Linked DNA regions of Homo sapiens. The protein of the gene in region 6 purifies or fractionates together with the protein of the main gene of each other region. This does not show direct contact. Each region holds a gene or a part of one and is shown on either strand. Other genes may lie near its edges.

Region 1 (3,945 bases), on a different chromosome or scaffold from region 6:
TTCTTGGCTTTTTGTTGCAAAAATGACAATTAAGAAAAGAAACTACAAGAAAAAAAAACAAGAAACAAGACAAGAAAAAGGAAAGAAAGGAAAAAAGAAAAAAAAGGAAGGAAAGAAACAAAAATAGTGAAGCTCATTACAATTTCTGTTGTGTGCAAATGGACAAAGGCATAAATGAGAACAAAAACATTAACATTGTGCTGAAGGTAATTCGACCCAGCATAGTTTTCATTGGTGCACATCTCTTGTTTTACACTTTTGTGTATTCCAAGTTATAAGAAAAGAATCCAGAGGAAAAACAATAGACATGGCTAACAGCAATCATATACATTTTTTGAGAAGCTGGATATATCTTACTAATTTAGGAACATGGCCACAGCTTTTGAAAACACAGCAGCATGAAACAGTTCAAAGGTAGATACATTGTGTTCATTTGTTCACCTTAAAAAAATGCTTAAACAACAGTAAGGCACTTAGTTTAAGACAGGAATTCTTTCTCCAGTTCATATATAGATGGCCGGCTGGTTTTGCTCCTCATTCTGCACAGTGGCACAGTGTAGTCCCTGCTCTGACCTTCCACGTCAGCATCCAGTAATGAAGGCACATGGGATTTAGTTCTCTCCTTGGCAGCGAGGAATTGGGTGGGATGTGGTCCTGGGCGACCCACTACACAGGCAGTCTGTGCCAGCTGAGACACTGCTGTCTGTGGGTAAGCCTGAGGCAGATCTGAGCGGCTTCTCAGGGAGGCAGGGCGACGCTGAGGCACGATGTGGACAGTGCTGTGCTTCTTGGGTGAGACCTCCCTTGGCAGATGACTGTGAGGAGCAGGTGAGGGGCAGAGTGGCAGTGCAGAGGCTCCAGTGGCTGAGATAATAGTTGCACCAGCTGGTTGAGAAAGCCAAAACAGTATGCAGTTAGAAAGAAAATGAGTTCTAAAACAATGAATATCAAGAAAAATAATTATGATGGCAATTCAACAAAGTGATAGCTTTAAAATGAGCTTCAACAAAAAACATGCATTCACAGGCATGATCATAGCACACTGCAGCCTCGAACTCTTGGCCTTAAGGACCAAGGAACTCTGCCTTAGCCTCTAGAGTAGCTGGGACCACAGGCATGTGCCACCACACCTGGCTGAAGTCCTGCAAGTTTGCAAAGAGTACTTCAACCTATGGAAATTATATTTGTAAACAGAGCTAAATAATCCTCACAGTGCTTAGGCCAATAAAAATTATGAGTCATTATAATGATATTATAACGGTAGCTTTCAAAATGGACTAGACTGGAATAAATTTAAGAGGTTTAAAAATGATGGTCAACATGATTAAACTTCACTGTAGATTATGATTTGACAAAACTGATGAAAATGGAAAAGCAGTTAGACTTTTACACGTCACCTCTTTTCTTGTTTGTACTGAAGAACTGAATAATGTTATTACCACTTTAGCAAATAATTATTGGCTTATAAGTTAGAGAAAAATATGCTTTCATATGGGATTACTGTGCTAGAATTTCTCCTTGTGCAATTATAAATTACCAATACTTATTGACCTACAGAAAGATAATAAACCAATTTATCTAAAGGCAATGAACAATAATATAGAAAATATCATATCCAGATATAATATTTAAAAAGAAGTAAAGGAAAAGATAAAAAGGATGAAAGCAGTTTGTCTTAATATAGCTTTATAACCAATGCTAGCATAGCATTTTACAATTTAGAAAGCATTTTTTGTATATATTACCTCACTTAATATTCATGACAGGTATATAAGGTTATTGCAATTATGTTCACATACAAAATAAATAATACTCAAGCTCTACAGAGCACTTAGTGTGCCATCTGACTTTTACCACGATCTCAATTGTACAGATTAGGTAAGTATAGTATTAGGTATGTATATTGTTACTGTCCCCATTTTATAGATGAAGAAACTGAGGCACAAAATGTTTAAGTGATTCGCCCAAATTCACTCAGCATATAAGCAGAGATATGAGCCCAGCTAGCTTCCATACTATTAACCATGACACTACAATGCTTTTTAAGACATTCAAACAAGAAAGCAGTCTACGTAATTTCCCCAGCATCACAAACTTACCAAATAGTACAACTAGAACTTGAACCTTTGTTCTATGACTCAAAATCCCCCATTCTTCCAAAGTACCCATATTATCTCCTCAAATGTCAGTATTTCAGTGCCACTTAACCCCAGAAATCTCAAAGCTGAGTACATTCTAGCACATGATAGCATGATCCAGTCACATCAATACTCACTGAATTTTAGGAATGGAAAAAATACCGCAGTGAGGAGGAGTGAGACACTGTGATACAGCAGAAGGATCCCGGGTTTAAATTCTGACACCACTACTTCCTAATTGTGTGACCTTGAATAACATTAATTTTCCGTAAGTTTGAATTCTCTTGCATATAATAGAGTTGCCATAAAAACTAAGAGACAATTTATGTCCAAGTGCTTTAACATCTATAAAGTGCTGTGGAAATACCACTGGTTGCCTTCTGCCCAAGCCCCTCTTGTTGAATAGACTAAAAAACTATTTAAAAATTTGATTTTCTTTTCTTTCAGAGATTCCACATCTGGACATAAACCTCATGGAACTGTCTGGTATAACATACATCAACAGGGTAATACTTGCTGTCATGGGGTGAACTGTGTCCCCACAAAATTCCTAAGCAGAAGCCCTAACCCTCTGTCCCTCAGATGTCACTGTATGTGGAATAGGGTCTGTACAGAGGTGATTAAGGTAAAATGAGGTCATTAGGGTGGGCCCTAATCCAATGTGACTGATGTCCTAAAAAGAGATTAGGACACAGATGATTAGGACACAGATGCACTCAGAGTGAAGACTGTGTGAGAACACAGGGAGAAAACGGCCGTCTAGAAGTCAAGGAGCCAGGCTGAGCTCAGAAGGAACCAACCCTTCAGACACCTTGATCTGACTTCCAGCCTCTGGAACTGCTGGACAATGAGTTTGTGCTGAACATCTCTCCATGCTGTGGCACTCTGTTATGGCAGCCCTAGCAGGCTGATCACCTGCTACACACAGTCCCAACAGAAACAGAACAATGACATGTACAGCAGTGGAGGAGACAAGGCCCGCAGGGAGGCGAGAGGCCAGTTTCAGTTCCAGCCCTCCCACTCATCCGTGGTTCTAACTGGGGCAGCTGGCTTGTCTTTCCCGTAACGTGAGGGGGCTGGGTGGTTATTCTCCATGTGTTCTTTCTGCTTTGATATGCTATTATAGGTTTCAGTTACTGAAATTCAATTACACTTTTCCCAGAATCCAAATCATAGTTAAAATCAAATAAGAGAAGGGTAAGGTTCAAAGATCTACATGAACAGTAAAAACAAATTATTAAATGTCATCACCAGGAAAAGATAAAATCATAAATCCATACTGTTTCACATACTAATCTCTACAGCAGTGTTTTATGCTTTTACCTAATTAATGCAACCTACTTGGGGTCGGATTTCCATCAGACATGGTCCGTCTGTGATGTGACGGTCTATGTTTTGAAGAAGCACAGTAAGGTACATTCCCACATGTCTGCTGTAGGAAGGAAGACGGCAAGTTTCTTGATACACTACAATCAGTGTCAAGTCTTGGCATGAGGGCTGGCTCACGACCACTTCCTGGGGCAGTGGGACAAAAATCCGGAGTGAGCATCTCAGAGTCACAAGTGACAGGTGCACTGTCCACCAGTGGATCTTCACTGTCCATCTGCAGCAGGCACTTTGTGGAGAAAGAAGGTGTGGAGAGGATGCCCAGGGCACTTGACAGTGGCAGGGAGGGTGGGCTGCTGGCCTCCCCACAGGTGGATGGCAGGCTTGTGGGAGGACTGGCGCTTCTGCGGGACTTGGAAGCCCGCTGGAAGATTCCCTCTCGTTTCTTCTTCTCTTCCTTGGGCAACGGTTCTTCAGCAGC
Region 2 (4,483 bases), on a different chromosome or scaffold from region 6:
TAAGTGTGGTGGCGCATGCCTGTAATCCCAGCTACTCAGGAGGCTGAGGCACAAGAATTGCTTGAACTCAGGAGATGGAGGTTGCAGTGAGCTGAGATCGCGCCACTGCACTCCAACCTGGGCGACAGAGCGAGACCCTGTCTCAAAAAAACAAAAAAAGAAAGGGCAGATGAAGCCAGGATTCAAACCCAGGCCCATCCGATTCCAGAACCACCGCACTGTTCTTTGTCTCTCTGTGGCCTTGCTCTTAGGTCACCTGTGGGAATTATGCTGAGACCCTCTGATCTTTTGGGGCCCAGGGGCCTCAGTGTCCTCAAATGCCACGTTAAGATGGTCAGGAAGCCTGGGGACCAGTGTTAGCAGTGGCCTTCCCTTTGTCCTGCAAATTCACAAATGACTTTACCAATTTCTGTGGCCTTTACTGTGGCCCAGAAAGTGAACTTGGAGTCAAACAGGACAACCCGTAGGTAAGAAGACGGTCAAAAACTCCCACAGCCGGCCGGGTGCGGTGGCTCACGCCTGTAATCCCAGCACTTTTGGGAGGCCGAGGTGGGTGGATCACAAGGTCAGGAGTTCAAGACCAGCCAGGACAACATGGTGAAACCCCATCTCTACTAAAGATACAAAAATTAGCCGGGTGTGGTGGCGTGTGCCTGTAATCCCAGCTACTCGGGAGGCTGAGGCAGGAGAATCATTTGAACCCTGGAGGCGGAGGTTGCAGTGAGCCGAGATCACACCACTTCATTCCAGCCTGGGCAACAGGGCAAGACTCTGTCTCAAAAAAAAAAACAAACAACTCCCACAGCCAGCCAGGTGCAGTGGCTCACGCCTGTAATCCCATAATCCCAGCACTTTGTGAGACTGAGGCGGGTGGATCACTTGAGGTCAGGAATTCAAGACTAGCCTGGCCAATATGCAGAAACTCCATCTCTACTAAAAACAAATATTAGCCGGGTGTGGTGGCATGTGCCTGTAGATCCCAGCTACTTGGGAGGCTGAGGCAGGAGAATCGCTTGAACTCAGGAGGCAGAGGTTGCAGTGAGCCGAGATCACGCCACTGTGCTCTAGCCTGGGTGAAAGAGTGAGCCTACATTTCAAAAAAAAAAAGATGTAGCTGGGTGTAGTAGTGCGCGCCTGTAGTCCCAGCTACTCAGGAGGCTAAGGTGGGAAGATCGCTTGAGCTTGGCAGGTTGAGACTGCAGTGAGCTATGATCACACCACTGTCCTCCAGCCTGGGTGACAAAGCCAGACCCTGTCTCAAAAAGAGAAAAAAAAAAATTTCCACAAATAGCCAGGATAAGAGGAACTGAAAGCTGGAGCATTGAACTTGGACCTAGCCTGGTCCAGCAGTAGCCAGGGGGAGGCTCTGGGAGGAGGCAGTGTTCAAACTGAGGCCTGGAGGGCAGGAGGTGACCAGGTTGCAGATCCAAAGGAAAGAGTGAAACAGGCAGCATAGGCATAGACCCTAAGGTTGGACCATACCTGGAGTGGGACTGACCTGCCACTGTCCCCATTGAAAGCTGGGGAGGCCCGGCATGGTAGCTCACACTTGTAATCCCAGCACTGTGGGAGGCCAAGGCAGGAGGATCACTTGAAGCCAGGAGTTTGAGACCAGCTTGGGCAACATACTGAGATCTCGTCTCTATTAAAAAAACAATTAGCCAGGCATGATCGCACATGCCTATAGTCCTAGCTACTTGCGGGGCTGAAGTGGGAAGACTGCTTGAGCCCAGGGGTTTGAGGCTGCAGTGAGCTATGGTCGCACAACTGCACTCCAGCCTGGGTGACATAGCAAGACCCCATCTCTACAAAAAGTAATTTTTTTTTTTCTTTTTTGAGACAGAGTCTCGCTCTCTCGCCCAGGCTGGAGTGCAGTGGCACGATCTTGGCTCACTGCAAGCTCCGCCTCCTGGGTTCACGCCATTCTCCTGCCTCAGCCTCCCGAGTAGCTGGGACTACAGGCGCCCGCCACCACGCCCGGCTAATTTTTTGTATTTTTAGTAGAGGCGGGGTTTCACTGTGTTAGCCAGGATGGTCTCGATCTCCTGACCTCATGATCCGCCCGCCTCTGCCTCCCAAAGTGCTGGGATTACAGGCGTGAGCCACCGCGCCTGGCCTACAAAAAGTATTTTTAAAAATTAGCCAGGCGTGGCGGTGAATGCCTGTAGTCCCACCTACTTGAGAGGCTGAGGTGGGAGGATTGCTTGAGTTTAGGAGACTGAAGCTGCAGTGAGCCATGATGGCACCACTGCACTCCAGCCTGGGTGACAGAGCAAGAGCCTGTCTCTGAAATAATCATACTTGGCCGGGTGCGGTGGCTCACGCCTGTAATCCCAGCACTTTGGGAGGCCAAGGCGGGCAGATCACCTGAGGTCAGGAGTTTGAGACGAGCCTGGCCAACATGGTGAAACCCTGTCTCTACTAAAAATACAAAAATTAGGCTGGGCGTAGTGGCTTATACCTGTAATCCCAGCACTTTGGGAGGCCGAGGCAGGCGGATTACCTGAGGTCAGGAGTTCAAGACCAGCCTGGCCAATGTGGTGAAACCCCATCTCTACTAAAAATACAAAAGTTAGCCAGGTGTGGTGGCAGGCGCCTGTAATCCCAGCCACTCGGGAGGCTGAGGCAGGAGAATCTCTTCAACTCAGGTGGTGGAGGTTGCAGTGAGCCAAGATCTCGCCACTGCACTCCAGCCTGGGCGACAGAGTGAGACTGCGTCTCAAAAAATAAAAATACAAATACAAAAATTAGCTGGGCATGGTGGCACACGCCTGTAATCCCGTCTACTTGGGAGGCTGAGACAGGAGAAGCACTTGAACCCAAGAGGTGGAGGTTGCAGTGAGCTGAGATCACACCACTGCACTCCAGCCTGGGTGACAGAGCGAGACTCCATGTCAAATAAATAAATTAAATAATCATACTAATAAAAAATAAAGCTGAGGAAACTGAGGCTCCAGGCAGATAAGGCTGAGCAGGGAATCAAACCCAGGTGTACCTAAGGCCAGATCACATGTGGTCTGTGGCTGGACCATGTTTGCCAGGCATTCGCTAGGGGCTGCCCCTCTGCCAAGGCCTGGGGCAAGAACATATTGGACCCTCCACCTGGGCTGCACCCTGAGCTGAGGAAGATGTTAGGAGCTGACACCCAGGGGGCCTGTGTCTCATCCCGTCTTCACAGGCTCAAGGCTCAGAGCCTAAGTTTGATCATGACTGAGCACTTCAGAGCCAGGGCAGCCCACTGGCCCTTCTAGAAGGTTCCTAAGTCATTGCTTCATCCAGCCTCCCGGATGTGGCTTCATGACAGTGTCATGAGAGCTGGTCAGGGGAGGCACTGCATCCCCAGCCTGGGGTGAGAACTCTAGAGGCCTCAGGAAATTGCTGGGTGATGCAGGGTGAGGCAGGGAGGCTCCAGCTGAGCCTCCTCCCTCATCTTGCAGAGATGGTGCCACTGAGTCACCTCGAAGAAGAACAGCCCCCAGCACCTGAGTCCCCAGAGGTGAGTAGCAGAGGCTGGGGGACCCCCGCTCATCTTGTTCTTTCCAGAGTGGACCAGGCACCCGCAGAAAGGGCTGGGTTTGCCGAGGTCTTGCATGTAGCTTAATTAGCATCGGTGACTTTGGAGGCAAGGTGACGGCACGTGGGACTGCCCTGCCTTGGAAGTCGGGTGGGGGCAGTGCTGGAGGGGCACTGGACAGGTGAGTTTTGCAGGACGTGTAAGAATTTCCCAGGAGGAGGGCACAGCTGTGAGCAAAAAAGTACAGAAAGTCAGAAGCTGAGTTGGAGAAGTTTGGACAGGGGAGGAGGTAGCATCGGGCACCAGGACCAGTGGTTTGGGCTTGGGGGCAGGAGAAGCCTTCCCAGCTCTGCAGCGGGGCAGGACCCTAAGCCCTTCCCATCCCCTAGAGCCGCGCCCTGGTCGGCCAGTCACGGAGGAAGCCATGCGAAAGCGACTTTGAGACCATCAAACTCATTAGCAACGGAGCCTATGGGTGAGTCCCTGAGTCCTGCATAGACCCATTTCACAGATGCCTGAGGGGATGGTTGAGGCCCAGGCAGCTCCTGCATCCCCCTCCTACCCCAGCAGGGCTCACACATTCATCCTTGAATGGGCAGAGAAGGCACCTGAGGACTGGAGGGGGAAGTGGAGACACGCCATAGCGAGGTTACAGCCTCATGTGTGCTCTGTCCACGAGCCAGGCCTTTACCTGCCCCAGGTGTAGGGCGTTCTAGGGGCTTGGGGGCTGATCAAGGAAATAGATGCCCACCCAGTGGGAGTAGCACGCAGTGAGCTTTATTTAGGTGCTGCTTTGAATGGCAGGCTTGCATACAAGGGAAGTCCCTCATAGCATAAGCCTTTTGGAGGCTGAGGTTCCAGGAGTCACCATCAAGAGGGAGAGGCCGGCAAGGGAACTCCCCGGGCAGAGGGGGATCAGAGAGGGGGCTTACATGTCTAGGTGATGTTGTTCAACAGCATGGGCACTCA
Region 3 (3,520 bases), on a different chromosome or scaffold from region 6:
CCTTTGGGACTCTGGGAGTTGGTGCAGGATTTGCACTTGGGGCCAAGCTGTGCCGGCCAGATGCTGAGGTGAGGCACTGGAGTTGGGAGACTTGCTGCTCTCTAGGTCCTGATCCACCCTAACCATCCTGGGTCCCCTCCCGACTAGGTCTGGTGCCTGTTTGGGGACGGAGCTTTTGGCTACAGCCTCATCGAATTTGATACATTCGTCAGACACAAGGTGACTGGGCTGGCCTGAGGGAAGCTTAGGGCCTGGGGTTCTGGGAGATGTCACCAGGGGTGGGCTGAGGTGGGGAGGGAGCCTCCTCTCTGGCAGAGGCCCTATCCCTGTCTCTGTCCTCTGGCTGGCCAAGCCATGGGGCTGAAGGCTGCGGCCTGCCTTCATCATCTTCCTGTAGATCCCAGTGATGGCCTTGGTAGGGAATGATGCTGGCTGGACACAGATTTCTCGGGAGCAGGTGCCCTCTCTGGGCAGCAACGTGGCCTGTGGCCTGGCCTACACTGGTGAGGGGGCCTCAGCGAGGTTGGGAGGACAGGAGGCTGTTTCAGTCCCAGCTGGGCTTGTGTTCCTCTCCTGGGCTGGCTGCATGTGCGGTGGGCTGAGTCCTTGCCACTATCCGACTTAATCTCTTCTTTTAGATTATCACAAGGCAGCCATGGGTCTGGGGGCCCGGGGCTTGCTGCTCTCACGGGAGAACGAGGATCAGGTGGTCAAGGTGCTGCACGATGCCCAGCAGCAGTGCCGAGACGGCCACCCGGTTGTGGTCAACATCCTCATTGGGAGGACGGACTTCCGCGATGGCTCCATTGCTGTATAGGGCCTTGTGGGTCAGGACGCTTGGCTGCCTTCCTGCCCCTGGACTGTGTCCAGCTGGTTTGGAGTCTCATCATTGCTTGCCCTGGGCCTATCCCATGAGGCCCAGTGACTCCACAACCTCCCTGAGGAGGGGATGGAGGGGTCAAATCTCAGAGAGGCTCTCTTGTGAGCTCTTGGACCCTCCTCTTCACGGACCCAACTGTGCCGTTTGTCCCCTCTCTTATGGAGACTGAATAAACCACCTCTGGCCCATGTAGGCCCAAGTACTCAGTCTCAGAACCTGTGCATATTTATTTATTATCCACAAAGATGGAGGTGCGGAAAAGAAGAGGGAGACAGGAGGGAACCGTACTCTCCCACTGGAACTCTGGGGCCCACTGAGGCACCATTATTGGGGATTTCAGGGTGGCTGGGCACTGCAAACTGCTCCCTCCTCTGTGGTCCCTGAAAGAGCCCCACACGCCTGCTTCAGACGTGTCCACGCACACCAGTCCTCACAGACACACACACACATGCATGGAGGCAATAAATATGTTCCGTACCAGACTGCCCCCAGCCTGACGCTTCAGGGGGCCCCCTCCAAAAGGGAGGGGTTTAAGTGCTCAATTTTTTTCGGGGGGGGGGGCAAGGGGGGGGCAAGGAGATGGGGATTGGAAAGGCCAGACTCTGTTATCTCCATTTGCTGACTAGAGGCCAATCGTGGGGACTTCCCCGGAAAAGGGTAGGGGAAACCAGCTGTTTCTCTATAAGCCCCAGGCTACCCCTGTGTCCATGCTGGAACCCAGGATAGGGGCTGCCCCCCACAAACAGTGCCTCATGCTAGTCTTTGTGTCGTCCAAGGGAGGGAGAAACAGTGCAGTGCTCAAAGCTAATACTGATTTGGTTGGCAGCAGCAAGAGGGCCGACTAGAGGTGACTCACCACACCAGGGTGATGCTCACAGTAACTGGTGTTGCCCCGGCCAAGGGGAGGCAAGAGAGGCCAGCCTAGCAAGCGCGAGAACTACCTTTTTGGCAACAAAAGGGGAAGCCCTTGGTGCTCAGGAAAGATGGTCACAACCGCTGGTCCCTAAAATCCCCAGGCCCCAGACTTGGCAACTAGTGTCCAAATACCGGGCCCTGGAAACTGGGAATGAGTCTCAGCCATACACGCGACTGGTCCCGTGGTAACTCGCTGGCAACCAGGAGCTCGGCCTGAGCAACAGGTCTGGCTCTCCTTGGTCACCAGGGCACCGCCTTAGCCACTGGGCGCCCGGTCCTTACTAACCGGGGTCCCACCCCGTCATCTGGCTCAGAGGCACACGTTGATTTGCTTGGAGAGCTCTCTCTCCAGATCCAGGATGAGGGCGTCGAAGTCTTTGAGATTCAGGTGCGGGTTGAAGGGCGCATCGAAGTCGTCTTCGAAGTCACCGGTGACCCTCGGCTCGCCGACCTCCTCGTCCTCGTCCTCGCTGTCACTGCCCGTCACGTGGTCGTAGTCTGGCCCGGACAGGAAATCCCGCCCACAGGGCAGGAAGTCCCGCCCGCAAACGCTCCAGTCGCCGGCGTAGCGGTTGCTCGGGGGGCTTTCGGGGCCTCCTCGACCGCGGGGCCGAGTCACCACTTCGGGGTCTGCCAGCGGCAGGTGCAGAGGTGGCTGTCGTTTGGGTCGCAAGTAAGGCGCGACATCTGGAGATTGTCGGGGCAGGCGGGGATCTGAAGGGAGACAGGGTAGGTCATAGAAAGAGGCGACAGCCGACCTCTGATTGGCTGCTTAGGGAACTAGGCTCCTGATTGGCCTGTGGAAAGCGGCCTTCGACCCTTTCAGGTTTTCACTGGCAGAGCTAGGACTGGTTGCTTACGCAACTAGGCCTCTGATTGGCATGTCAAGAGGCAGGGCCTCTGACTGCATCAAAGATGGGTAGGGGCAGGTCTGTGGATCATGCCTGGATCATGCCTGTAATCCCAGCACTTTGGGAGGCCTGAGGCAGGCGGATCACTTGAGGTCAGGAGTTCAAGACCAGCCTGGCCAACACCGTGAAGCCCCATCTCCACTAAAAATACAAAAATTAGCTAGGATTGGTAGTGCATGCCTGTAATCCCAGCACTTTGAGAGGCCTGAAATGGGTGGATCACTTGAGGTCAGGAGTTCAAGACCAGCCTGGCCAACACAGTGAAACCCTGCTCTACTTAAAATATAAAAATTAGCCAGGACTGGTGGTGCGTGCCTATAATCCCAGCTACTCGGGAGGCTGAGGTGGGAGAATCCCTTGAACCTGGGAGGCAGAGGTTGCAGTGAGCTGAGATCATGCCACCACACCCCAGCCTGGGCTAGAGAGCAAGACTCCATCTCAAAAAAAATAAAAAATAAAAATAAAAAGATGAATCAGCTCTGTGGGGCAAGGTGATTTGGTTTATAATCCCAGTACTTTGGGAGGCTGAGGCGGAAGGATGGCTTGAGATCATGCGTTTGAGACCAGCTTGGGCAATATAGAGAAACCCTGTCTTTACAAAAAAATGAAAATAAAAAAAGACAAAACAGACAGATTGGTTGGATCTGAACTGGTTGCTGAGGCAACCAGGTACCAGTTTACTCCATGAGGGGGCGTAGCTTCAAGCCTAAGACACTGATTGGTCCCTTAAGGTGGCATCACTGTAGCAGCCTGGCTCAGATTGGTGGTGCAGGCCCTGGGCATGAACTCACCTGGCCAAGACTGCAGCAGGTAG
Region 4 (3,374 bases), on a different chromosome or scaffold from region 6:
TATCTGGTCCTCAACCTGTAGGGTAGACCCATCACTCCTTGCGTTAGGTGTTGATGGAACTCTGGTCCGGTTTTATTGTTGGACTGTGGATCCAACTGGTCCTGAGGCATATGAGAAAGGCTCTTCTTGGCCTTCATGTATGTAGCTCTGGGGCTGGACCTTACCTGTTAGGATCAAGGGGTAGGTGGGCTTTGTTCAGATACCTCCCAGAAACACATTAGGAGCAGAACTCAAGAACAGAATAAACTAATATGAGCATACTTTTGGAAGGTTCTGTGACAAGGTGATAAGACAAACACTAAGACAGGGAGGGTAGTAGACAGTAGTGTTTTCCCTGACCTGAACTGTAGGGATCACCTTCATTGTCTGGGGCCTTTAGAAAAGGTCTCTCAGCTGCACATCTGAATCTTCAAAGATGCCAGAAATAGACTCAAATGCCATCTTTGGGGTGGGAGATGGAGGGCAGAGCTCATGGCTGTTGTGGATACCTACAGATGGATCCCAAACTGCGCCCATCTTTTGTGGAGATTGGGAAGACCCTGGAGGAAATTCTGAGCCGCCTACAGGAAGAAGAGCAGGAGAGGGATAGGAAGCTGCAGCCCACAGCCAGGGGTAAGAGATTAGACCAGGGAGCCCAACCTAACCCTAAGGGAGGAAATTCGGATGTGGGGCCTTCTCCTCTTAGGGTTGTGATTGCCAGGATCCCAGGTCCAGAAACAAATGGGAGGGGAAGGAGATGATGCAGAAAGTACTGGCCTTTTTAAGAGCTGTGGCTTGGCATACTGCTTCCCCTCTCTGAGTCTGTTTCTTCATTGGTAAAACAGGGCCATGGTATCAGCTTTGCTTTCATGAGTGAAAACATTCTGTGGTAAAATGCTGCTTGTATTTGTTATGACTAGTGAGAGTAACCCAGACTTGATTATTCTTCAGGACTCTTGGAGAAAGCACCTGGGGTGAAGCGACTAAGCTCACTGGATGACAAGATCCCCCACAAGTCACCATGCCCAAGACGTACCATCTGGCTGTCTCGAAGCCAGTCAGATATCTTTTCCCGTAAGCCCCCACGTACAGTGAGTGTCTTGGACCCATACTACCGGCCACGAGATGGTGCTGCCCGCACCCCCAAAGTCAACCCTTTTAGTGCTCGCCAGGACCTCATGGGGGGCAAGATCAAGTTTTTTGACCTGCCCAGCAAGTCTGTCATCTCTCTGGTATTTGACCTGGATGCACCAGGGCCCGGAACTATGCCCCTGGCTGACTGGCAGGAGCCCCTGGCCCCACCTATTCGCCGGTGGCGTTCCTTGCCTGGTTCGCCTGAGTTCTTGCATCAAGAGGCTTGTCCATTTGTGGGCCGGGAAGAATCGCTATCTGATGGGCCCCCACCACGCCTAAGTAGTCTCAAGTACAGAGTTAAAGAGATCCCACCATTCCGGGCATCTGCCCTACCAGCTGCTCAAGCCCATGAGGCTATGGACTGCTCCATTCTCCAGGAAGAAAATGGTTTTGGGTCCAGGCCCCAGGGGACCAGTCCATGCCCTGCGGGTGCTTCTGAGGAGATGGAGGTAGAAGAAAGGCCAGCAGGCTCAACTCCAGCCACCTTCTCCACCTCAGGCATAGGCCTGCAAACCCAGGGAAAGCAGGATGGGTGAGGGGGTTTAGTCCCTGCCTCACCTTGGGGATGGACCTTCAGCTGAAACCATATGGCCCCCTAGGTGCACAGCCTTGATTCTTCCCTGGAGCCTACAGAGCAGGCAGGCTAGGCCAAGCCAGGCTCAACTTCTGGGCTCCCAGTGCCCATTGGCTGTGTATGACGGGAGGCAGCAGTGAGAGGCCTTCCTAGTTAGGGCCAACAGCTGATACCAAGCCTCTGAAATCCAGCAAGGAGGTCTGCCTCCCACCAGACCCTCTCCAGTGTACTTCCCCAGATAGGACCAGAGGATGTCTAGTTCTAGGCTGAGCTGGCAGGCAGCTATTACCCCGGTTCTTTCCCCACCCCAGGTCTGTCTCTTGCCTTTTCTTGGGGCATATAAGCTACTGAGTGGAACATGGAGCTGATCAAGAGGCCGTAATGGTCATGGCTGTTTCCCAGACCTGAATATTGGGGTGCTTCTTGCCAGTATTCTAAGACATTTGAGTAATTGCTGTTTGCACTTACTGCATGGTCAGACCACGTCACTACATTTCTATGCAAGGGGACAGCAAGGCAGCGTGGTGGTCATGGCTCTTAGCTAACCTATTCAAAGACCTTTTCCTGTTGATTAATCTATTTTCATATTTATAAAGGAGTCTTAATGTTCTGCCCCATAAGACTTTCAACCTTGTGGTTGGGAGTGGGGCTGGTTTTGTAGGCCCTAGGGCCTGCTTCTATGTATTTATCAACATGTGATACATTCAATTGGTTAAATGGTTTATACAGGGACTGATTTGCTTCCCTTCCTGCCATGGCTGGAGCTTTGGGAACAGTCTGTCCTTACAGAGCTGCAATAAGAAATAACCAAAGATGAAGCTGGTCAAATATTTTCATAACTTGCTTCTGTTGATTTTTTTTTTTGTAAAACTTTCCCAAGACATTTTCAGACTTAAAAATAAAGTCAGTGTTACAGGTGCTGGTCAGCCTTCTTACTTGTACCTCAAACACTGGGATAAAGGAGGCGGTCCAGGGCAATGCAGTGATGTCTGTCAAGACATTCCCCCTCCCCTAAACTCAGTAGCAGTTGAGGATGACATTTCAGGCTAGAGAGACCCAAAATACCTCTGTTCCACCTGAGAGCAAGGTGGAAGTTGCATCAGCTACTGCCCCAAGTGAGCTTCATCTTCTGATTGTGGGCTTTGGAGGAACGAGAGAACTGGCTCTTGGCCACTGTGAGGGGTACAGCTTTGCCACTCAAATATACCTTATTGTGGCATTCAGGGAGCCAGGGTCCAGAGCTGCAGGGCTGCGGTCCCTGGCTCACTTCCACATAGGCCATCACATAACCTGTCATAAAGGCATCAAAACCAGCCCGGTGCAATCCATCCCCAGGCACTGGGTTAGGACTGGCTTGGCTCCCTGGCACTTCTGAGGTAGCTCTATCAGCTATTTCAGGCCTTGCTGCCTTAATCCCCATCTCTAAGTCATTTTTGTTGCCTTGCTTGGAGTGAGGCAGGTTCCTAGTTTCATCGGCAGCCACCTCCTGCTCGGTTTCTTCAGGCTTGATGCTATCCCCACAGACCTGCTTCTTGGGAGGACCATCCTTAGCTTCCCCAGAGGTCTGTGTCCCCGGTAGGTTCAATAAAGCCCTCTTCCGTTTTTCCCTACGTCGTCGCCGTCGCCGCTTGTCCTCTGCCGCAGCCTCATCAGTGTCAATGATAAGGTCAATATCGTGAGACTGAGG
Region 5 (4,483 bases), on a different chromosome or scaffold from region 6:
GCAAGTCCATGACTTAACTGTATGGGGCTTTCGCTCTGAGGAGATAAAGATATCTTTAGAAAATGGTATCCATTAGTCATTCATTTCAACAGTGTTGACTGAAGAAAAAGAAAATAGCTGCTTTTTGACAACTTTCTATTTGCGAGCAATGGAGTTCAATGCTTTTTAATGCATTATTTTATTCTTCAAACCAGACTTTGAAAAGGAATTGTAGGCCAGGTGTGGTGGCTCACCCCTGTACTCCCAGCACTTTGGGAGGCCGAGGTGGGTGGATCACTTGAGGCCAGGAGTTTGAGACCAGACTGGCCAACATGGTGAAACCCTGTCTCTACTAAAAATACAGAAACTAGCTGGGTGTGGTGGTGAGTGCCTGTAATCCCAGCTACTCAGGAGGCTGAGGTGGGATAATCGCTTCAACCTGGAAGGCGGAGGTTGCAGTGAGCTGAAATCGCACCACTGCACTCTAGCCTGGGCGACAGAGCGAGACTGTCTCAAAACAAACAAACAAACAAACAAAAAAAGTAGTAATTGTAGCATTTCTATGTAGCAGAACCTCAGAGAGGTTAATTAACATTCCCAGAATTACAAAACCCACCTGTGCTTTTACTACAATGTTGGACATGATTATCTTTAAGAGGATCTTGCTATCCTGAGATGACACCATTTTCAAAGATGTGCAGGATAAACTGGAAGCATAAGTCTTGATCTTCCATCAAAGGAGCTCCCAGTCTTGTTGATAATAAGATGCACATGTGAGTTCATTGGAAGAATATATGTACCTAGTGCACTGATGGCAGCCAATCATGAATTAAAGAAATGGGGGTGGAATTTGAGAACAGCACAGAAGACAGCACAAGCAGGCCCCTTGGCTCCAAGTTCCACCGGGGTGACGTGGAGGAATCCAGATGGGTGCTGCACATACAGTGGGTTTGTGTCGGCATCTGAGGATCACTGAACTTGGGGAATCCGCTGCAAAGTCTCTGATTTAGATGACTAGGTGAATGCTGGTGTCATTAACTGAATCAGAAGCACAGGAGAAGCAGGTTTTAGGGTGGAGGTGTGGGAAATGATGAGTTCTAGTCTCAGTCAACAGTGTGTCGTCAGTGCTTATGTGCTGTGTACCCTGCCTGCAACTATGAATAAGATGCAGTGTGTGCCTGGAAGCAACTCAGCACAATTGAGTTTTAGGTGTCTGAAGTGCAGCCAGGTGGATGGATCCAGAAGGCCATTGTGAATATGAGTCTGAAACGAAGGGACTGGACGTAGGTGTAGATTTCGGAGTCATTACTGTAGGTAGAAGATAGAGCACCTCAGGTGTGTCTGTGACAGAGGCGGTCACAGAGGCCAAGAAGAGCAACCTCAGGAGAATCAGGTGAAAGCAATGTTGTGGATGCCTAGGGAGGAAAAATGTGTCAAAAGAGTGAAAGGTGAAAGCAATCACATGTCACAGGAATGGCCGCGTGATTAACACAGAATTGTGTTCAGTGGATTTGGCATTATGATGGTCAGTGTTCATTTTCAGGATAATTTCACTGAAACGAATTAATTGGTATTGGGCATTGGCAGTGGGCTGAGGAGTGAGTGGGCGTGCCAGTATGGAGGCAGCGAGTCTCAAGAACATTCCTCTGAGAAACTCCAGGTAGAAGGGGAGGGTTCAGAGTGGTACCTGGAGGGGTAGGTACCTTTTTTTAAAAAAAAAAGTTTTGGGGAGATATTTGAACCTTGTATAGATAGAGCCAATAGATAGAAGTTTTTGAAATATGGGAGGAAGAGAATAATTATATAATGGGAAAGCCCAGGAATTTCAAGCTTAATTTTCTTGATGGGGTAGAATGTGAGGTTATTGAAAGTAGGAGGAATTGGGTGAGCTGGGGTCTTCTGAGTAGTGAATGTGTAGGAATGTGGTTGAAGGACCCTAACTGTATTTTCTATCTATTGAGGGTACTGGGGTCATCCATTCCGAGTTTTTTCTTCTTGGTTTTTAGATATAAGTCACATCCCCAAAGTGTACCATTCACTGGGTTTTAGTTTACTCACAGACTTGTGCAGCCATTATTAGTATACAATTCCAGAACATTTTCATCACCCCACAGAGGAACCTTGTAACTGTTAGCAGTCAGTCTCCATTTCCCACTTCCCAGCCCCTGGCAACCACTAATCTACTTCCTGACTCTATGGATTTGCTTATTCTGGACATTTAATACATGGAATCCTATATTATGTGGACTTTTGTATCTCACTTCTTTCACTTGGTATAATGTATTCAGGGCTCATCCATGTTTTGTCATGAATCAATACTTCATTCTTTTTATAGCTGAACAACATTCTGTTACACAGATATGCTGTGTTTTGTATTCATTCATCAATTGATGGGCATTTGGCTTGTTTCCAATTTTTGGCTATTATGAATGATGCTCCTTTGAACATTTATGTACAGGCTTTTGTGTAGACATGTGTTTTCATTTTTCTCAGATACGCATATGTATAGGAGTGGAATTTCTGAGTCATATAGTAACTAACTTTTGAGGAACTGTTTTCCAAAGCATATGAACCATTTTACATTCCCATAGAAATGCATGAAGGTTCCACTTTCTCCACATCCTCACCAACACTTGTTCTTGTCTCTCTCCATGAGTATTGCTATCCTAGTGGGTATGAGGTGGTATCTGATTGTGGTTTAGATTTGCCTTTCTCTGGTAGATAATGTTGAGCGTCTTTTCATGTGCATATTGGCCGTTTGTATAGCTTGAGAGAGATCTCTATTCACATCTTCCCCTTATTTCAAAAACTATATCTTTTTATTACTGAGTTGTAAGACTTCTTCATACATTCTGTATACCATTCTGTTATCAAATAGATGATTTGCAAATATTTTGATTTTATGGGTTTCTTTTTCACTCCCTTGTGTCCTTTGATGCATGAAAGTTTTAAATTTTGATGAAGTCCAGTTTATTTTTAGTTGCTTGTGATTTTGCTGTGATTTCTGAGAAACCATTATCTAACATCATGTGGATTTTCATTTGTTTTCTTCTAAGAGTTTGATAGGTTTAGCTCTTACATTTAGATCTTTGATCCAGTTGGAGTTTTGAATGTGGTATGAGGTAGGGATCCAACTTCATTCTTTGGCATGTGGATATCCAGTTGTTCTAGAACCATTTGATGAAAAGACTGTTCTTTCTCCATTAGATTGTCTTGGTACCCTTGTCAAAATCAATTGACCATAACTGTGACAGTATGTTTCTGGACTCCCAATTCCATTCCATCAATGTATATATGTCTTTCCTTATGTAAGTACCACACTGTCTTGATTACTCTACCTTTGTATTAAGTTTCGAAACTGGGAGTCAAGTCCTCTGACTTTGTTTTTCTTTTTCAAGATTGTTTTGGCTATTCTAGTTCTGCCTTAAGCGGGTTTTTTTTTTTTTTTTTTTTTTTTTTTGAGACAGTCTCACTCTTCTCACCCAGGCTGGAGTGTAATGTCGTAATCTTGGCTCACTGCAGCCTCTGCCTCCCAGATTCAAGCAGTTCTCCTTTCTCAGCCTCCTGAGTTTCTGGGATTACAGGTGCCTGCCACCCTGCCTGGCTAATTTTTGTATTTTTGGTAGAGATAGGGTTTCACCATGTTGGCCAGGTGCCTTATGAGTTTTTTAAATACCTGTTTCTTAGTCTTCTGAGGTTGATTGGTTTCTTTTTTAAACTGTTTATTTGTTTAGAGATGGAGTCTCATTCTGTTGCCCAGGCTGAAGTGCAGTGGTGTGATCATAGCTCACTATGACCTTGACCTCCTGGGCTCAAGATGTCTTCCCACCTCAGCCTCCCAAAGTGCTAGGATTACAGGCATGAGCCACTGCACCCAGCTGATTCATTTCTTGAGTATGAACATTTTATGTTTTTGGTCACATAGGATTATTTTATTTGTTTTCAGATATGGGGTCTTGCTCTGTTGCCCAGGCTGGAGTGTAGTAGCACAATCATAGCTCATCACAGCCTGTAACTCATGGGCTCAAATGATCCTTCCATCTCAGCCTCCTGAGAAGCTGGGCTACAGGTGCATGCCACTACACCTGGCTAATTATTTTTTTTAAATTTGTTTTAGGGACAGGTTCTTGCTGTGTTGCTCAGGCTAGTCTTGAACTCCTGGCCTCAAGTGATCCCCCTGCTTCAGACTCCCAAGTAGCTGGGGGATTATTTTAATTATTTTCACACTATCACATCTCCTCTCCTAACCTGGCATCTCATTCTTGTGTTAGCCATGTTAGAGCTCAGTTGTATTTTAATCTTTTATTTATTTAATACATTTTCATGTTTACTAGTAACAATATAAAAGTAGTGATTAGGTTATTTTATATATCTCTTTTTAGAAAATAAAGACCAATTTGCTTTTTACTTATATGGTATCACATAATTTTTTTTCTCCCAGGGTCAGCAGATCTCAATAAAAAAGGGGGTCCCAAGTAACTTATAAATAGAACAAAGTAGTATA
Region 6 (4,483 bases):
CGCCTCTCTCCCGGCTTCCGGGACTCCGGAAGCCTGACTCCAGGCTTCACGTGGTGTTCTCCCTGCTGGTGGGTCTGCCTCTGTCCTGTGTTCTTTTTTTTTTTTTTTTTTTTAAATTGATCATTCTTGGGTGTTTCTCGCAGAGGGGGATTTGGCAGGGTCATAGGACAATAGTGGAGGGAAGGTCAGCAGACAAACAAGTGAACAAAGGTCTCTGGTTTTTCTAGGCAGAGGACCCCGAGGCCTTCCGCAGTGTTTGTGTCCCTGGGTACTTGAGATTAGGGAGTGGTGATGACTCTTAACGAGCATGCTGCCTTCAAGCATCTGTTTAACAAAGCACATCTTGCACCGACCTCAATCCATTTAACCCTGAGTGGACACAGCACATGTTTCAGAGAGCACAGGGTTGGGGGTAAGGTCACAGATCAACAGGATCCCAAGGCAGAAGAATTTTTCTTAGTACAGAACAAAATGAAAAGTCTCCCATGTCTACTTCTTTCTACACAGACGCGGCAACCATCCGATTTCTCAATCTTTTCCCCACCTTTCCCCCCTTTCTATTCCACAAAACCGCCATTGTCATCATGGCCCGTTCTCAATGAGCTGTTGGGTACACCTCCCAGACGGGGTGGTGGCCGGGCAGAGGGGCTCCTCACTGCCCAGTAGGGGCGGCCGGGCAGAGGCGCCCCTCACCTCCCGGACGGGGCGGCTGGCCGGGCAGGGGGCTGACCCCCCCACCTCCCTCCCGGACGGGGCGGCTGGCCGGGCAGAGGGGCTCCTCACCTCCCAGTAGGGGCGGCTGGGCAGAGGCGCCCCTCACCTCCCGGACAGGGCGGCTGGCCTGGCGGGGGCTGACCCCCACCTCCCTCCCGGACGGGGTGGCTGCTGGGCGGAGACGCTCCTCACTTCCCAGACGGGGCAGCTGCCGGTCGGAGGGGCTCCTCACTTCTCAGACGGGGCGGCTGCCGGGCGGAGGGGCTCCTCACTTCTCAGACGGGGCGGTTGCCAGGCGGAGAGTCTCCTCACTTCCCAGACGGGGCGGCTGGGCAGAGAGGCTCCTCACCTCCCAGACGGGGTCGCGGCCGGGGAGAGGCGCTCCTCACATCCCAGACGGGGCGGCAGGGCAGAGGCACTCCCCACATCTCAGACGATGGGCGGCTGGGCAGAGACGCTCCTCACTTCCTAGATGGGATGGCGGCCGGGAAGAGGCGCTCCTCACTTCCTAGATGGGATGGCGGCCGGGCAGAGACGCTCCTCACTTTCCAGACTGAGCAGCCAGGCAGAGGGGCTCCTCACATCCCAGACGATGGGCGGCCAGGCAGAGACGCTCCTCACTTCCCAGACGGGGTGGCGGCCGGGCAGAGGCTGCACTCTCCGCACTTTGGGAGGCCAAGGCAGGCGGCTGGGAGGTGGAGGTTGTAGGGAGCCGAGATCACGCCGCTGCACTCCAGCCTGGGCACCATTGAGCACTGAGTGAACGAGACTCCGTCTGCAATCCCGGCACCTCGGGAGGCCGAGGCTGGCGGATCACTCGCGGTTAGGAGCTGGAGACCAGCCCGGCCAACACAGCGAAACCCCGTCTCCACCAAAAAAACACGAAAACCAGTCAGGCATGGCGGCGCGCGCCTGCAATCGCAGGCACTCGGCAGGCTGAGGCAGGAGAATCAGGCAGGGAGGTTGCAGTGAGCAGAGATGGCAGCAGTACAGTCCAGCTTCGGCTCGGCATCCGAGGGAGACCGTGGAAAGAGAGGGAGAGGGAGACCGTGGGGAGAGGGAGAGGGAAGGGGAGGGGGAGGGGGAGAGCTTTTTTTTTTTTTTTTTTTTTTTTTTTAGCAAATTCTTCCAGATCCTGAGAGAGCCCATCTCTACCAAAAAAAAAAAAAAAAATTAACCAGGTGTGGTGGTGTGTGCCTGTAGTCCCAGCTACTGGGGAGGCTGAAGTGGGAGGATCACTTGAGCCCAGGAGATGGAGGCTGCAGTGAGCTCTGATTACTCCACTGCACTCTAGCCTGGGTCCCAAAGCAAGACCCTATCTCAGAGTAATGATGATGATGATGATGATGATGATGATGATGATGATGATGATAGTAATAGTAATGTGAGAATTTTGATAGCTCAGACAAGTCTTCCGTGAGTCCTGAGTATTATTAGAAAGCCTCATCAGAGTAGTCCCCTGGCGATATATACCCTGAGACTCCCATGATAGATACGTACTCAGGCCAGCTGCTGTCCAGCTGGTGTAAACGGCCATCCGCACCCCCTGGGGACTGAGTGGGGACCAACCCTTGGCCAAGTTACTCTTCTGATTTAGGCGGGTTTTGCCCACTGTGTGTTCCTTAACCTTAGGGGTTCCAACTGCCAAAGCCACCAGAGCCCCCTTCTGTTGAGGTGGAGTACTACACCATTGCCGAATTCCAGTCGTGCATTTCCGATGGCATCAGCTTTCGGGGTGGACAGAAGGCAGAGGTAAGCCTTGGGCCATGAGGCCGAGGGTTTTAACTCATTGTGGTGGAAAACCTACTGCATTTCCCATTTTAGGCCTTGCTAGTAAGATTCCTGAGGGGCAGGCAGGCAGGAAAGGTACAGAAATGAGCCCCACAAAGATGAGCATCTGCCTGGCGCTGGCCAGTGCCATGGCCTAAACTAGATCCCAGCTCTCACGCTCCACCCTGAGCTCACAGGGCTTGTCTCACAACATTTCCCAGAGCATGTGCAGGAGCTTGTGACAGGGGGGCCTTGAAACAAAGGGCTTCTTTGGTCAAATGAGCTTGCAGGACAGTGGATTAAACAAAATCCAACCCATTTGTTGTTTTAATTGCAGGGCTTCCCAGAGCCTAGGATACAAGGATGTCACTGGGAGTGTCACCTACAAGGGGTCTAGAATAGACAGCATTGCCCAACCCCACAAGCTTTCTCTCCCAGGAACATCTCAGGGCCAGGATCCTGCAGAAGCCACATCAGGAAGTGTTGTTAGGAGGATGTGGACCAGGCAGGTAGACTGAGATACTGGGGACCTGGGCTCTGGCCAAGTCCACACCACATGACCCCTGGCCTTTGATGCAGTCACTTCTCTCACCCGCCACCCCCAACTTTAAGCATTTCTCTCTGCAAAACAGGGTGATAGATCCTGGGACGCCCCTCCACCCCCCAGCATGTCTTCCAGCATTCATGCCACTCTATTTTGTGGCTGGGGCTGAGCATGGTATTCCCGGCAGCAGAGAAGAGCTGTAACTTAGTCAATTCTCTGAGTGGCTTTGTGTAGTAATTGAGTTAACTCCATCTAATACAAGTGAACCTGTCAGACTCATTGGGCAGTCTCTGCCTCTAAAGCAGTGACATTCCCAATGTGAATGTTTTAAATCACATGCCTGGAACTTGCAACTAAATTTCCAAGAAAAATCATTCTCTCTGTACTGAGGTTTCCAGGAGAGTCTGTAAAGAGCATAATGTGGCAGAACTGTCAGGCTCAGGAGCCACCTGTGCTTGAACTGTAGGTACAGGGCTGGGGCAGGGTGAAGGACAGAATGTAGGACCCAAAGAAGGAGAAAATCTTTCTCTTCTAGTGGGGGATGCAGAGGACTGGTCTCTTCTTGCCTTTGCATTCTTCACCTTTCCCTCCCTCCTTGGCCCTCTTCCCATAGTGCCAGTGTTTTCACGCTACCCCTTCCCCACCCCAGGACCTTTTCCTCCAGGAGTGTCCCACAATCCCCAGTTATCTGCCCTTTATGTTCCCCAGTCCAAATGGACCCCAGCACAACCAGCAGCCACACTTTTGGCCATTGGTTGATCTCCAGAAGTTAAGGAAGAAGCTCCTTAAACCAGTTTATACTAACATGGAAATGACTGAAAGCCCCCTGCCCTTCCTACAGGAAACCAATCAACCCAAAGAAATCTCTTCAGCTAGTGGGATTTCAGTGGGATTCCAGTAAGATGACCACAGCGGGTGGATCCTGGGGAAAGGCTCTGCAGAGAGGCTCTGGCCTCGGGCCTGTACCTCCCAGGTCACTTCATCTGCATCTTCCCATACTCTTCTGACCCTAGAGACCCTTTCAAGGAACTCAAAGGGAGGACCTAGCAACATCGAGGGTACGAGGAGGGAAGGGGCAGCAGAAGGGCAGTGTTTTCTTCATACGTGTCCTTAGTCTACTGGCAGGATTGTAGGGACTGGGAACAGTGCAGTTTAGGGGGAGGCAGAGTGGGCCAGCTCAACCCGGCTGTTAACACAGACATGGAGGATCAGGGAGGGAACTTGGCAAGTGGGAACCCACCAACCATGAGATGATAGAGACCTAGGTTTGAATTCTGGTGCATTATTTACTATATTGGGTTTTGGGCCACTTACTCAGTGGCTCGGTTTATTATCTGTAAAATGGAGATAATTTATCCCAGAGCCAAAGTATGATACTCCTACCTTGGGATGTCATAGGGTTCCAGATCCTCCCAACTCACTGGCTTGTCTGCACTCGTACCCCAGGTCATTGAT
Region 7 (4,483 bases), on a different chromosome or scaffold from region 6:
GGCCAGGGCCAGGCTGAAGAAAGGAGGGCTGTAGGGTCTGTGAGCTGGGGCACATTGAGAAGAGGCACTGGGAGCTTGGAGGAACCTGAGGCTGGAGACCCGCTTTGGGGGGCTCTGGTGAGGCACCTGCGGCCCACCCCCTCCACCACTGCCCCGGTGCTTTATGGGAGTCCACAGCTTGGAGGGGGCGGGCCGCCACACCGGCTGCCAGCGAGACAGGTCCACGGGCACTGAGAGTGAGCGGCAGTGCCTCTTGGATGGAGGGGCAGGGGGCACAGGAAGCTTCTCTGGATCTGGGGGCTCAGGTCTTAGGACTTGGGAGAAGGGCTGCTCCTTGGGGGAGTTTCCCCGACTGGGTGGTCTGAGGTGCAGGCTCAGGCCTGAGGGATGGTAGCTGAAGTTGAGGCTGTCCTGGAACTCAGCACAGGAACAGTGGGGCAGGCCCCTCCAGGAAGCACCTTCTGGAAGGCATTTATAATAAGAATAATATTAATGATAGCTTACATTTTTTAAGAACTTACCATTTGCCACATAATGTATGGAGCATTTTATGTGAAAATTTCCAAAAACCTTATGAGGTAGGTAGTATCGTTATCATTATCCCCATTTCACAGATAAGAGAAATTCAATAACTTTCCCAAAATCACATAGCACTCAAAAGACCAAAGGAGGATTCAAATCCAGGTCTGTCTGATGCGAAGGCTAGGTTTTTAAACCACTATGCTCTATTGCCTCCATTGTGACCAACTACCTGGAATCAAAAACATTTCATCTACTGCCTGCCACTCCCTCTCAAAGGTAAAAGAAGTCAAGAGAAACAAACACGTTTGTGAGTGTCCTGCTCATCTCTCCCTCGCCCCTCCCCCACGCTTGCCCTGGATGCTGAAAAGCAGGCCTATGCTCTTCTTTCTCGGCCTTTCCTCCTCTCATGTGTCAACAGCACCAAGTCAGGAGTTAGGACTGCCAAGAAGTAAGAGGTAATCAGGCAGGTAAGAGATCACTTTTATTCCTAGGGAGGGCAAACAGGGTGGGGAAGGCCTTTGACAGTGAAACCTGGGCTTGGGAAACCCTGACTTTGTGCTGCTCATCTTCGTTTCTGTCTGGCCACCCACATATTCCGATTCCCTTCCCCTAGGCCTTCTCTTAAATCCAAACAGATGGAGGGACCAAGAGAAGGAAGGGAAAATGGACTAAAAGAAACAATCCTCACTCACTGTATTCCAACCAAAATTGTGACTTTTGGGAGACGGCTCATTAAGGGACAAAGGGCCTAATCCAAACTCCTCTGGCTAGCTGGCTGGAATTCTGCAGGGGCTGGATATTTGGGGCAAACGACAAGTATACGAAGTCAGACTTGATGGTGGCAAAATTCATACTGAGTGTATTTGGTCTATAGTTCTTCCCTCTACTAACCACTATGAGGGCAGGGACCATGAGTTCCTGCTCTATACTTATGACACAATACCTGGCTTTCAGCAAGTCTTTAATAAACAGGAGGAAGAGACTGAATGAACATGTTTTTGCCAACTCACTTCCCTTGCTAGGTATCCCAGAAAAGAAAATGAGATGCAGAACTGCTGAGCAGCACGAGTTAGGGAGTTCTGATTGTCCACCAGTGATGCCTCCATCTAAATGTCCCTACGATCAGGGGCCCTTTAACTCAGTAATTAATAATCTACGAATTTATACCTCAGATATATTTTCACATGTGAAAAAATGACATATGTACAAGGTTATTCACTACAGTTTCTTTTTTCTTTCTTTTTTTTTTTTTTGAGATGGAATCTCGCTCTGTTGCCCAAGCTGGAGTGCAGTGGGTGCGATCTCGGCTCACTGCAACCTCCGCCTCCTGGATTCCAGGGATTCTCCTGCCTCAGCCTCCTGAGTAGCTGGGATTACAGGCGCCTGCCACCATGCCCAGCTAATTTTTGTATTTTTAATAGAGACGGGGTTTCACCATGCTGGCCAGGCTGGTCTCGAACTCCTGGCTTCATGCTATCTGCCCACCTCGGCCTCCCAAAGTGCTGGGATTACAGGCATGAGTCACCACGTCTGGCCCACTACAGTTTTATGTATCCAAACAAGATTAGAAATAACCTAAATGCACATCAATAGAAAACTCATTAAATAAGCCACTGTACATCTATGCAGTGTAATAATATGTAGCTATATATAACAAGGGAATGAATACTCAGCATTCTGATAGGGAAAGATCTCCTAGCTATATTAAAGTTTTTTTTGTTTTTTGTTTTTTTTTTTTTTGAGATGGAGTCTTGCTTTGTTGTGCAGGCTGGAGTGCAGTGGCATGATCTGGGCTCACCACAACCTCCACCTCCTGGGTTCAAGTGATTCTCCTGCCTTGCCCTCCCGAGTAGCTGGGATTACAGGTGTGTACCACCATGCCAGGCTAATTTTTGTATTTTTAGTAGAGACAGGGTTTCACTGTGTTGGCCAGGCTGGTCTCGAACTCCTGACCTCATGATCCGCCCACCTCGGCCTCCCAAAGTGCTAGGATTACAGGCATGAGCCACTGTGCCCAGCAATTTTTTTTTTTTTTTGAGACAGAGTTTTGCTCTTGTTGCCCAGGCTAGAGTGCAATGGCGCAATCTTGGCTCACCGCAACCTCTACCTCCTGGGTTCAAGTGATTCTCCTGCCTCAGCCTCCCGAGTAGCTGGGATTACAGGCATGCGCCACGACGCCTGGCTAATTTTATATTTTTAGTAGAGATGGGGTTTCTCCATGTTGGTCAGGCTGGTCTTGAACTCCCGACCTCAGGTGATCTGCCCACCTTGGCCTCCCAAAGTGCTGGGATTATAGGTGTGACCCACTAGGCCCGGTCCCATTTTTTTTTTTAAAGGTACAAAATAATATATAGTATGCAACCTTTTGTGTTAAAAACGTGGAAATAAAATAGATGCAGCTAACCACCATGGCACATGTACACCTATGTAACGAACCTGCACGTTCTGCACATGTATCCGAGAACTTAAAAAAGAAAGGAAATAAATATATACATTTGCTTCTTTTTATATAAAGAAATTCTAGTCACATATACTGTATAAGAAACTAATACTTTTAGGGAGGTGGTAGAAGCTGGGTAGATAGGGAACGGGAGAGTAAGAGAGACTTTTCTCAGCATAACCTTTTTGTTGTTATTTTTTAAATTTTGAACCATGTGAATGTATTACCTATTCAAAAAATTAGATTATACAAGTCCCCACAAAGCTAGAATAAGAGCAAACCAACCAGATAACTTTCATGCTAGAACATGAAAGACAACTGTCAATCTCAGAAGTTGACCCTGGCAAGAAGGTTCTAGAGGTAGGCTCGCTAGCCCTGGTCACTGGAAACCAATGATAGAAATGTGTGGAGAGAGGAATGGGTACACACACGTACACAAACACACACGATGCCTTACCAGACACAAGCTGGAAAGAGTTCCCACAGTTGGAGATGTCTGCATGATCAGGCAAAGGCTAAGAAAGAGAGAATATCCATCATGATTTGGATTCAGGACACACTGACAGATTTCTAGGAAGCCCTCTTCAGTTCTCCTCTGCGATTCATGAGCTACAGGGATGTTAGGGACATTAAGTGTTCTTCCTCTTGTCTTCCCAAAGTTAGTAAGTCAAACAATCCACATCTTCCAACATCTCAAACCCTTCTCCACCCAAGTTTTGCTGTCCCTTCTCTATCGGTGGAAAAATCCCTGCCCCCTTCCTTTTGGGCTGGGTTTTGAGCCATTAGTGGGCTCTTCCAGGTTAAGTACCATGATTCATACAGCACAGGACAAGAGTAAAGTAATAGCAACAATCAGCCTCAGAAAAAAGGGGGAGGGGGTCGTGGAGAAGCAGGAAGACTGGTCTTTTACCAGACTGATGCTGAAGCGTGTGCATTTCAGCTCATCCAGAGTCTGCTTCTGTAGCTGCTCAGTGATCAGGGTTATCATGATTCTCCCCAGGATTTGACTTGCACACTTTGGAGCAAATGATGGATGTCTTCCCTGTTGTTCTTCCAGACCTCACTTGTGAGCCGTCTTCTGCCACTGCAGCACCATTCTAGCACCATTGGGACTTCCCTCTCCAGTCATGCCTGCTGAGTCTGCCAATTAGAGGGACCAGCCCCAAGTGATATTAGAGATGCACCTGGTCCAGAGATGGAAAATGCATGGCACACATACCACAGCACCCCTAAGCCAGGCCTCTGGCAGACATCAATTGATCACAGCTCTTTCCAGCTAAGCCTAAACACAGCTTCAGAAATTATGAACTTGGCAGTCCAGATATGAAATAAAATAGAGTTGGCAATCAAGTTGAAACTTATTTGCTACCCTTAAACTGGTTCATGCTCTGTTGTTTCTAACTGGAATACCAGCACCACTTAGAAAACAGCTGCTCAAGTGAGAGAGAGGGATGCCCAAATGATTATTTCCATCAAGATCAGCCCAGTATTTTATCTTCCAGTCAGAAGTGAAAAGAGGTA

The links.
Region 1: the proteins of SH3PXD2A (region 6) and MAP3K21 purify together in Homo sapiens (affinity purification with mass spectrometry, with the first as the bait; one large-scale study listed by BioGRID). This does not show direct contact.
Region 2: the proteins of SH3PXD2A (region 6) and MAST3 purify together in Homo sapiens (affinity purification with mass spectrometry, with the first as the bait; one large-scale study listed by BioGRID). This does not show direct contact.
Region 3: the proteins of SH3PXD2A (region 6) and SYDE1 purify together in Homo sapiens (affinity purification with mass spectrometry, with the first as the bait; one large-scale study listed by BioGRID). This does not show direct contact.
Region 4: the proteins of SH3PXD2A (region 6) and TESK2 purify together in Homo sapiens (affinity purification with mass spectrometry, with the first as the bait; one large-scale study listed by BioGRID). This does not show direct contact.
Region 5: the proteins of SH3PXD2A (region 6) and KIF13B purify together in Homo sapiens (affinity purification with mass spectrometry, with the first as the bait; one large-scale study listed by BioGRID). This does not show direct contact.
Region 7: the proteins of SH3PXD2A (region 6) and FAM53C purify together in Homo sapiens (affinity purification with mass spectrometry, with the first as the bait; one large-scale study listed by BioGRID). This does not show direct contact.

The regions. Positions count from the first base shown.
Region 1 is NC_000001.11:233,379,245-233,383,189, reverse strand, and holds part of MAP3K21 (mitogen-activated protein kinase kinase kinase 21), read right to left. Parts: coding exon 3,480-3,945; intron 886-3,479; coding exon 479-885; 3' UTR 1-478. UniProt on the Homo sapiens protein: Negative regulator of TLR4 signaling. Does not activate JNK1/MAPK8 pathway, p38/MAPK14, nor ERK2/MAPK1 pathways.
Region 2 is NC_000019.10:18,124,963-18,129,445, forward strand, and holds part of MAST3 (microtubule-associated serine/threonine-protein kinase 3), read left to right. Parts: intron 1-3,437; coding exon 3,438-3,496; intron 3,497-3,903; coding exon 3,904-3,989; intron 3,990-4,483.
Region 3 is NC_000019.10:15,112,549-15,116,068, reverse strand, and holds the end of SYDE1 (rho GTPase-activating protein SYDE1), read right to left. Parts: coding exon 3,498-3,520; intron 2,510-3,497; coding exon 2,106-2,509; 3' UTR 1,095-2,105; downstream 1-1,094. Other genes in the region: HACL2 (2-hydroxyacyl-CoA lyase 2), read left to right, coding at 1-68, 148-219, 398-503, 639-817. UniProt on the Homo sapiens protein: GTPase activator for the Rho-type GTPases. As a GCM1 downstream effector, it is involved in placental development and positively regulates trophoblast cells migration.
Region 4 is NC_000001.11:45,343,115-45,346,488, reverse strand, and holds the end of TESK2 (dual specificity testis-specific protein kinase 2), read left to right. Parts: intron 1-494; coding exon 495-612; intron 613-930; coding exon 931-1,649; 3' UTR 1,650-2,606; downstream 2,607-3,374. Other genes in the region: TOE1 (target of EGR1 protein 1), read right to left, coding at 2,787-3,374. UniProt on the Homo sapiens protein: Dual specificity protein kinase activity catalyzing autophosphorylation and phosphorylation of exogenous substrates on both serine/threonine and tyrosine residues. Phosphorylates cofilin at 'Ser-3'. May play an important role in spermatogenesis.
Region 5 is NC_000008.11:29,252,785-29,257,267, reverse strand, and holds part of KIF13B (kinesin-like protein KIF13B), read left to right. Parts: intron 1-4,483. UniProt on the Homo sapiens protein: Involved in reorganization of the cortical cytoskeleton. Regulates axon formation by promoting the formation of extra axons. May be functionally important for the intracellular trafficking of MAGUKs and associated protein complexes.
Region 6 is NC_000010.11:103,603,781-103,608,263, reverse strand, and holds part of SH3PXD2A (SH3 and PX domain-containing protein 2A), read left to right. Parts: intron 1-2,346; coding exon 2,347-2,466; intron 2,467-4,474; coding exon 4,475-4,483. UniProt on the Homo sapiens protein: Adapter protein involved in invadopodia and podosome formation, extracellular matrix degradation and invasiveness of some cancer cells. Binds matrix metalloproteinases (ADAMs), NADPH oxidases (NOXs) and phosphoinositides.
Region 7 is NC_000005.10:138,340,803-138,345,285, reverse strand, and holds part of FAM53C (protein FAM53C), read right to left. Parts: intron 4,103-4,483; 5' UTR 4,070-4,102; coding exon of another isoform or gene 4,022-4,069; 5' UTR 3,951-4,021; coding exon 3,873-3,950; intron 3,478-3,872; coding exon 3,420-3,477; intron 462-3,419; coding exon 1-461.